Linked DNA regions of Homo sapiens: region 1 is linked to region 2. The links come from fine-mapping of genetic effects on gene expression. Tissue or cell type: whole blood. Region 2 holds a variant in brackets; the other region holds the start of a gene. All regions are shown on one strand. Distances are between the middles of the regions.

Region 1 (5,000 bases), 420 kb before region 2:
TGGTCGCAGGCCTACTCGAGCCTGGTAAGTTCTTTTTATTTTTTGAGATGGAATCTCACTGTGTCGCCCAGGCTGGAGTGCAGTGGCACGATCTCGGCTCACTGCAACCTCTGCCTCCCAGGTTCAAGCGATTATCCTATCTCAGCCCCCCACTCCACAAGTAGCCAGGATTACAGGCACACGCCATCACGCCCAGCTATTTTTTTGTATTTTTAGTAGAGACAGGGTTTCACCATGTTGGCCAGGCTGGTCTCAAACTCCTGACCTCAGGTGATCTGCCCACCTCAGCCTTCCAAAGTCCTAGGATTACAGGCGTGAGCCACCAAGCCCAGCCAAGCCCGGTGTAATCTGATGCAACACATGCTGAGGGCCCCAGCCATCCAGCTCCTAAGGTCAGGGCTGTGCCCGTTTCTGAATCCCAGGATTCAGCCCAGCCTAAGACACTCAGTGGACCATTAGGAAGCAGGCAGAAAAGGAGAATGAGATTTAATACAGTCTGCTCATAGAAAAGCAAGAGGGCCGCACAGAAACAGGAGGCCCAAGGCAAAACCAAAGTTTCTACCAGAGGGCTGCAGACCAGAAGCTCAGTGCAGTTCAAGGGACAGGAGGAGGCAGGTGGGCTGGGAGTCAGGAAGGCCTCATGCAGGGGCACATGGTAAGGCACATGGAATCTGAGGAAGCAGACTCCAGTCCATACTCCCTCATTAAGTTGTGTCACCTTGGCCAAGGTCTTCACTGAGCCTCAGTTTCTCCCTCTGAAGAATGGCAAGACTGGAGAGATCTGTAAGGCCTGCTCACTGGAGATCAGCCTAGAGTGGTGGTCAGGTGTGGGACTCCGGTGCCAGAGGGCCTAAGTGTGTATCCCGGCTCCTTCCCTCATTACTATGACAACGGTGTGACCTTGAGCACATGACTTAACTGCTGTGCCTGGGCTTTTGCCTTCCATAAAATGGGGTTAACTACTCCATCTGGTTGTTTTAAGGATTAAATGAGTTGTACTTACATGGTGCTGGCATGCAGCAAGTTCCATATGCATGCATGTTATCATTGGGTGACCCTGGGCAGTGATCACATCTCCAAGCATCAGTTTTCTCACCTGAAAAAAAGGAGATGATAATAACACTATCTGCCTTACATGACAATTGAATTGAATTTTTTTTTTTTTTTGAGACTAAGTCTCACTCTGTCGCCCAGGCTGGAGTGCAGTGGCGTGATCTTGGCTCACTGCAACCTCCACCTCCCCAGTTCAAGCGATTCTCGTGCCTCAGCTTCCCGAGTAGCTGGGATTACAGGCACACACTACCACGCCCGGCTAATTTAGAATTGAAATAATTTATGTACAGTATCTTAGTACAGGACCTGACATTATAAACAATGAGTGGCAGCCATTCTTATTTAATCAGTCCTAACAAAGTTCATAAAAGTGAGACTGTGTTTGCTTAGCTTTTTCCCTAGGGCCTGGATACCCCCAGCCCCCATGACACACAATAGGGGCCAAATGAATGTGTTGTGAAAAAATGAAAAACAAAAAACAAAAAAGAACATGCTGGGATTCCTTGACAGGGTCGTGAAGCAAACTGAATGTGAATGCACAGATGGAAATGTGCCAGACAGTCATTCCAAGCAGAATGTGCAAAGACTCAGTCCACAGGGAATGCGAAGTGCCAGGGCTAGTCTCAGGAGAAACTGGCTCAGAAGAGACAGCTCTCAGGGAGGGCTAAAGTAGGAAAGAGGCTAGAAAGGGACCAGGTGAGGGAAGGCTCTGAAGGCCAAGCCCAAGAGTTCTGCCTGTCTGGCAGGCAGCAGGGCCTCTGGAGTTTCTTGGGCAAAGAGTGGCTGCTTCCTGGGTAAGGTGGCCTGTGGAAAATCCCTGACAACTGTGTAGAGACATGTCGTGAGGGATGGCAGGGAGCATAGTGAACTAGGTTTGTGGTTTGGAATCAGGGCCCCTGGGGTCCAGCCAAGTTGGATTGTTTACTATCTGTGTGACTTTGAGAGTCACTTCACCTTTCTCAACTGTAAAGTGGGGATAGCAACAGTGATAGTCGATCTGGCCTGCTCACTTCTCAGCCTCACTGTGAGAACCAAATAAGATGATTTACAGGAAAGTGCAAATGAGAGTTGTGGCTGATATCCGCTTGGAGAGAGCCTGGAGGGTGCATCCTCCCATTCTCCATCACAGAGTTGGGGAGGGAGGCACCCTCGCCCTCCAGGGGTTTCCTTTGTCCAACCCAGCCTCCTCCAACACGCGGGAATTGTCAGGCCTGGCGACTTCAGACAGGAAACGCTGTCCAGTTCCCCTTCTTTCCCGCCTCGCTCCCGGGCTGGCGCTAACGCCCACCTCCCAACAGCGCCACCCGCTGGCGGATATCCTGCACCGCGGCTGCCCGCTCCTGCGCCGCTGGCTGTGCCGGCGCTGCGTGGTGTGCCAGGCACCCGAGACGCCCGAGTCCTACGTGTGCCGGACGCTGGACTGCGAGGCCGTGTACTGCTGGTCGTGCTGGGACGACATGCGGCAGCGGTGCCCGGTCTGCACGCCCCGCGAAGAGCTCTCTTCCTCCGCCTTTAGTGACAGCAACGACGACACTGCCTACGCGGGGTGAAGAGGCGTCCTGCTCGCTCTTCCGCACCGTCCTTCCCGGTTAATAAAATGCCCTGTACGCTTCACGTGGGTCGGGGACTGGGGTGAGCCGCGCACTGCCTCGCCTGCAGTCGGGAAAGCCTGCCCGCCCGACCTCTCCGAGCCAGGCCGCGCACAGGAGGCAGGGAGGCCGCGAAGCTACTAGGGAGGGGTCCGGACCTGGCGCCGGGTGAAGGCGCGCCGCCCAAGCCGGTCGGACCGGGCACCGGCTCCCACTCCGCACAGTTGCGGGGAAGCGGTAGCGCTGAGCAGCGCGGGCGTAGTGGGCGGTGTCCCCGCTCCCGAGGCACCCGGCGCGCAGCGGGGCGGGCTTTGCCGGGGGCGGAGCTTGGCTTGGGGCCGGGTGGGAGGGGGCGGGCCGGGGCGGGGCCTGGTGGCCGCGCGGCGCTGCTGGGTTCTCCGAGGCGACCTGGCCGCCGGCCGCTCCTCCGCGCGCTGTTCCGCACTTGCTGCCCTCGCCCGGCCCGGAGCGCCGCTGCCATGCGGCTGGCGCTGCTCTGGGCCCTGGGGCTCCTGGGCGCGGGCAGCCCTCTGCCTTCCTGGCCGCTCCCAAATATAGGTGAGTCCTCCGCCTGGAGTGGGTCGGGGGGCGGACTGGGAGGGAGGTGCAGGAAAGTCGGAAGGCATTAGGGTAATGGGGCCGGACGGAGACCCTGGGAGAGCCCAGCCAGAGCGCGGCCCGCCCTGGTCCGCTGTCCTGGGCCTAGGGCCCGGTGACTTGGCGATGGGGTGAAAAGAGAAGGAGGGGGGATGCCGGCGCCCCCTGCCTCCTGCCTGGTCATCCTCTGCGCGGTCCCTGCGGACACTTTCAGGCTCAGGTACCAGGTACCGAGGGGCCTGTCCAGCGCCACTTCAAGATCGTGATGAGAGGGTCGCTGCTCCCCAGGACTGGCATCTTCGCTGCTCTGGGGCCTAGCTAACCGTTCGACCCGGTGCCAGGGCGCTGAGCGGGCATGGCTTGTAGGGTTTAGTGAAGAGGATTCTCTCTAGCCTCTATTCCAGGCCTGGGGCCGCCAGGCACTCCTCACCCTGGTGCTGTTGCCACCAGTGCCTGGCCGAGCGGGAGGGGCCCGAGATGAGCCAGGAGAAGGGAGAATTGGCCAGGAAAGAGGCTGGGACACCAACTCCTCCTTGGAACTTTCACTTCCCGCTGCTGTCTTGGGCCGGGACCGAGAGGGCAGGCGCGGGTGGAGTGTCCGGAGGAGAGAGGGCCATTGTGTGTTGGGGGGGTGGGGGGTGCTCGAGGAGGAAGCAGAGGCTGTAGGCAGCGGGTGTGCCTGACTGGGCATGAGGGTGTTTAGGGAGGTGGGGGTGTTTGCACTGCTCACCCAGAAATGGGCGTTCCTGGCATCTCCGATGTGAGCGAAGGGGAGGGTGAGCGGGCACCCGGCCACAAGGCTTAGCTCAGTCTCGAGAGGGGGCGTTCCTGAAGTGGGGGGAGAGTGATTGGGAGGGAGTGGGAACCGGGGAGGGTCCTGTGAGAACCTGGGATTGGCCGGAAGGGGACAAGGAGGGCCACAGGCTGCGCAAGCCGAAAGTCTTTCTTGGGGACTTGTGAATGGGTTGGTGGGTGGAAAGCCATAAATTAGAGAGACACCCTCTCCTTCCAGTATTCTTCTTTAAGTCTCAGCATGCAATGTGGAAGCCCCTCAGGTACCTAAGGGTCTTGATGGGCTGGGAGCTGGTGGATCTGAGGGCACCTGTCACCCCCAGCCCTGCTGTCGATTCCCTCAGTACTGTCTTGGGGTGTCCTGGGACCTGCAGGTGGCACTGAGGAGCAGCAGGCAGAGTCAGAGAAGGCCCCGAGGGAGCCCTTGGAGCCCCAGGTCCTTCAGGACGATCTCCCAATTAGCCTCAAAAAGGTGCTTCAGGTGAGCTCTCACTCCCCTCTAATAAATAAACGAATCCACACACGCCCCGGTATAGCCAGGTGTCTCAAAGCCAAAGCTTGGCTGAGGAGCTGGTGGGTAGAGCTCACTGTAGTGGGTCTATCCCAGGCCCAGCTGCCTCTCCCACCACACCCCAGCACCTGGCTTCACTTATCTCCCTCTCCCTCTGCACACACGTGTATCTGTCTGCCTCAGCCCCACCCAACCCATCCATCTCCACTGGGGAAATTGTGAAGCCAAACTTGCTTTCTTCATCTCATGTTGTCGGTTTTCTCAGTGGGGGGATTTGGAAAGAGTCAGGACCTTACCAAACCCCCCCCCCCCCACCCCATTCTAAAGCTGAGTCAGAGGAAGGGCTGGGGCTTGTGCTGGGTCCTACACGGTGCTTCCTCTCTGGGCAGGAAGCCGAGAAGGGGTGGCTCAGATACCTTCCTTGACCTCCGCACACAACCCCCCAGAACAATGCTCCA
Region 2 (5,000 bases):
CAATCCTCTCATATTTATTTTGTTGCTCAAACTGTCCCAGCTTGGACCACTGGGAGACATTTCAGGATAATAATATCCTGAAGGTGATCAACAATATTGCAATACCTATTATACAGTAGGTAGTTTTGGGAGCATTTTAACATGATACCAAATGTAAAATGAATCTACCTTAAATTTATATATGGAAAAAATCAACTGAAGACCGAGAAGATCACTTAAAAATCATATGTAATTATGTATTTCTTAAACCTTTATACTTCAAAAAGCAACCTGACATCACAGATTGAGAAAATGTAATTACATCTTCAACAGAATGCTATAGAATAACAATGTCATTGTAAGGAAAAAGCAAATAATAAACCAGTCAGAAGTGCTACAAAAGAAAACACTGAGGAAAAAATAGCAAAATGTAAAGGTGTAAGAATTTTAATTGTCTGCATTTCCTAACTTCCATTCCTCAGCCTCCAGAAATCTAACATTTGCCACTATACAAATGGCTCTCAGACACAAGACAAACTAACCGCCAAAGCCAATCATCCACTTTCAGTACTTACCTAACCAATCTCCCATAACACTTGACACTCTTTTTTTTAATTAATTAATTTTTTTTTTTTGAGACGGAGTTTCTCTCCTTGCCCAGGCTGGAGTGCAATGGCGTGATCTCAGCTCACCACAACCTCCACTTCCCAGGTTCAAGCAATTCTCCTGCCTCAGCCTCCTGAATAGCTGGGATTATAGGCATGTGCCACCACGTCCGGCTATTATTTGTATTTTTAGTAGAGATGGGGTTTCGTCATGTTGGTAAGGCTGGCCTTGAACTCCCGACCTCAGGTGATCTGCCCGCCTCAGCCTCCCAAAGTTCTGGGATTACAGGCGTGAGCCACCACGTCCACCCACTTGACACTCTTGACTATAATAAACTCACTTAAGAAACCCACTGAATTCACCATAAATATTGTCATTCCTTCTCATAGCCTTAATAATAAAGTATCTATAATTATCTTCAGGTTTTACCTCTCCTTTGAGCTACAGATCCATCTGTCCTACAAAACAGGCTTGAAATCCAAATTTATTACCTATTTCCAACCTTATCCTTTTGCATATCTCATTTCACTTAATCACATCATCTCTACCTTGGCTCAGAGCCTCATAATAAGAGCCTCATAATATTTTGTGGGAGCAGTTTCCAAACTGATCTACCTGATCTCTTTTCACTAATCCATCTATCACACTGCTGTCAATGTAATCTCAACAAATTATTCCCCATCTTAAAACCCTTAACTTCTCATACCTTATAAAGTAAACTCTATACTCTTGGGAGTCTCATATAAACGAGGACTTTATGATCTGCCTATCTTTCCAGTCCCATCTCTTGGGTCCCATATCAAACCATTAACACTTAACTAAGCACAGTAACACATCCCCATGCCCTTGCAAAGCTGATATCTAGTGTAAGAAACACGTGTCACACATTATTCTTCGCTGCTAAATTCAAAACTCCCTCCTCCTTCCCAAGACCTTTAAAGTCAGTCCCTCACTTCTCTGCTCCCCAAAATGCCTTGTAAGTATCTCAATATTAAGAACCGTCAGGCTGTGCGCGGTGGCTCACACCTGTAATCCCAGCACTTTGGGAAGCCGAGGCGGGTGGATCACCATAGGTCAGGAGTTCGAGACCAGCCTGGTCAACATGGTGAAACTCCGTCTCTACTAAAAACACAAAAATTAGCTGGGCATGGTGGCACACACCTGTAATCCCAGCTACTCAGGAGGCTGAGGCAGGAGAATTGCTTGAGCCTGGGAGGCGGAGGTTGCAGTAAGCCAAGATTGTGCCACTGCACTCCAGCCTGGCCAACAGAGTGAGTCTGTCTCAAAAAACAAAAAACAAAAAAAAACAAAAAAAAAAACTGTCA[A/G]TAACTATTCATATACATGTCTAAACTATAAATCAACTTTAAAGCAGAAATTACCTTTTTTTTTTTTTTTCTGAGACAGAGTCTCGCTCTGTTGCCCAGGCCGGAGTGCAATGGTGCAATCTCGGCTCACTACAATCTCCACCTCCTGGGTTCAAGTGATTCTTGTGCCTCAGCCTCCCGAGTAGCTGGGACTACAGGCATGTGCCACCATGCCTGGCTAATTTTTGTATTTTTAGTAGAGGCAGGGTTTTACCATGTTGGCCAGGCTGATCTCGAACTCCTAACCTCAAGTGGCCCACCCACCTCGGCCTCCCAAAGTGCTGGAATTACAGCATGTTCCTTCTCCTGGCACACAATAGGCACAAAATAACTGTTTGCTGAAAGAACAGCTACCATCATAAGGGAATAGTTAAGAATAAAAATCAAATACATAAAATACTCCTAAACAAAACCAGTTCTGACTTTCAAAGGGATCAAAACAAAAGATATCTGAGCCTGAATTAATATTTTTATTTAGTATTCTGCTTAACTAAAAACTTTTCCTCGACTGGTTTTTGTTAAGACAACTAAACCTATTCTCACATCTACCTGAAAAAAGTATATTAAGTTTCTATTAGAAAATCAAGTCACATCTCCATGTACTTATCAACAGTAATTGTGAAGAAGATGGAGAGATTCCAAGATAGAGAACAATTAACAAAAGAATTTAGACTTATGATCAAGTAAAGAATATAGCTGGTCTTTGTCCCTGGTTCCTGGCACAGAGTTTCAAAAACCCTTGTAATTACCCAAGTGACAGGAATGTCTCTGTTACGACAGTGAGATGAAAGCCTGAGGTAACTTCAAGATGGGGGCCGGTGACCAGAAAGACCAAATCACATAATTAAAAATCTGAAACTTTGGGTCACCCCAACCTCAAGGGAGTGGAGAACTGAAAATTGAATTAAAAAACATGGCCAATGATCTAATCAATCCGGCCTACCTAACAGAGCCCCAATAAAAACTCTGGACACTGAGGTTCACTGGAGCTTCCAGGTTGGTGAATATAGTGATGTGCTGGGAGGGCAATGTGCCCGGATTCCACAAGGGGAAAGGCATGGAGGTCTGTGGACCCTTCTTGCACCAAACACTGCTCTATGTATCTCTTCAACTAGTTGTTCTTGATCTGCATCCTTTGTAACAAAACTGTAATCATACTATAGTGCTTTCACAAGTTCTGTGAGTCCTTTTAACAAGTTACCAAAATTGAGGGGGTTGCACGAAGTTGCAAATTTTTAGCAGGCCAGGCAGAAGTATGGATGTCTCAGGAACACCAAAATTTGTGACTGGCATCTGCAGTCTCATGATGAACTCTGCTCTTAACTTGAGGTCTTCACTAGCTTCAGGTAATTTGTATTCAGAATTGAACTAAATTGTACAACATCCAATTGGTGATAGAGAACTAGTGTCAGAGCAGTGACTTCAGAGAGGTCTTTGTGGTTTCTGTATGTTATTTTATAAAGAAGAAAAAAAGCCAAGTGCAGTGGCTCACACCTGTAATCCCAGTACTCTGGAAGGCTGAGACAGGTGGTTCTCTTGCGGTCAGGAGTTTGAAACTAGCCTGGCCAATACAGTGAAACCCCGACTCTACAAAAAATTCAAAAATTAGCCAAATGTGGTGGTGCACTTCTGCAATCCCAGCTACTCGGAGGCTGAGGCAGGAGAACAGCTTGAACCCAGGAGGCGGGTTTTGCAGTGAGCCTAGATTACGCCACTGAACTCTAGCCTGGATGACAGAGAGAGACTCCATCTCAAATAAATAAAGAAGGAAATTTTTAAAAAGACAAATTCGTACTTAACACAGGTACTTTTGCATAAACTTCCCTGCTATCTTTCTCATTCCCCAAGGACCCTGAAACCAGGTTCACATCCACCATTTTCACCCCAACTTCTGTAACTGTCCTCTTGGGTAATTTCAATGTCCATGTAGATGATACATTCAACATCCTAACCTGTCATCTCATATCACCTTCACCTCAATTTACTCATCCTTTATAATCTCCTTCTCATGACTCTGAAATTAGGGATCTCAAATCCAAAAGTTCCCTCTTTAAATAGCTGAAGAGGGCCAGATACAACACACAACAGAAAACAGTGAGGACTGTGGCGAACAAAAGAATACAAGCAGCAATGAAAAAGGGCCTGCCAATACTGAGCCCCAGCCATCCCTATTATCCACGAAATGTGGACTAATTGTTGCCAGATGTTCTGATTTTTCTGAGAAGCAGAATTCCACATTTTTATGTAAAATTGCTACATTTTTTAATATGAGCAATTTTTTAAAAAGTGTAGAGATCATCACAAAGAATCACATGTGGGCCAAAAGCTGACAGTTTTTTAAGCACTACTTTAAATACTGCAGTTCCTCAGAGCTACCCAAGGCTGTTTGTTTTTCACTCCCTATTCTCTCCCAAGGAAAATATCATTACTCTCATGATTATACATATAAAAATTCACAAAGGTATACAGTATGTTTTGTTATTGTATGTGTTTCTATATAGTTAAATAGCTCTTGTATCATTGATAAATACAAGAATGATACCAGAATATGGAAGTTGTATTGGTTAATACATGACTTTTAAAGCACATAAATATTTTGCAGGACAAAACTAGCAGCTGAACGAAGGAGTACACCAACACAAACTAAATGAAGAAAGCCATAAGCAATGTAGTTCTGTTCAAAATGTACATTCATCCACATTCTTCCTCTTGGCTCCTACTGGCAACAGACTTTTCTGCAAGTGTTTTTATTGTGTGGCTTCTCTCAATGTTTGTACAAAAGAAACAAACAGGTACAATACACTAGAACCAGCTATGTCTGGCATTGCTACATTTATCTACCAATGACATCCTTCTGTGCCTACAGTTGAGCAGCTTCAACCCTTCTTTATATCCCTACAAGCGACCTTCATCTTTTCCTGGAAGGTTAATGCCTATATTTATTGTAGTATTTCTATTTTTTTTTTTTTTTTTTGAGACAGAGTATCACTCTGCCAGCCCAGGCTGGAGTGAAGTGGCACGATCACAGCTTACAGTAGCAGCCTTGAACTC

Evidence for each region. PIP is the estimated chance that this variant, and not a neighbour inherited with it, causes the effect.
Region 1: ADAM15 starts here. The variant in region 2 is fine-mapped to the expression of ADAM15 in whole blood (INTERVAL, PIP above 0.99).

What each region holds. Positions count from the first base shown.
Region 1 is chr1:155,048,266-155,053,265 of GRCh38, forward strand. ADAM15 (ADAM metallopeptidase domain 15) reads left to right here and starts at 3,051. Exons shown (of 23, transcript NM_207197.3): 1 at 3,051-3,200; 2 at 4,406-4,512. The coding sequence starts at 3,122. It overlaps DCST1 (DC-STAMP domain containing 1), which reads left to right. Exons shown (of 17, transcript NM_152494.4): 17 at 2,352-2,665. The coding sequence ends at 2,603. DCST1-AS1 (DCST1 antisense RNA 1) reads right to left here. Exons shown (of 4, transcript NR_040773.1): 2 at 1,004-1,096. ADAM15-EFNA4 (ADAM15-EFNA4 readthrough) reads left to right here and starts at 3,051. Exons shown (of 26, transcript NR_176418.1): 1 at 3,051-3,200; 2 at 4,406-4,512. RefSeq lists an enhancer at 2,226-2,285 and a silencer at 2,756-3,215.
Region 2 is chr1:155,468,588-155,473,587 of GRCh38, forward strand. All of the region lies in intron 3 of ASH1L (ASH1 like histone lysine methyltransferase), which reads right to left. Among named protein-coding and RNA genes, the nearest start is that of ASH1L-AS1, 91 kb to the right of the region's middle. The variant A/G (reference allele first, on the strand shown) is at 1,911.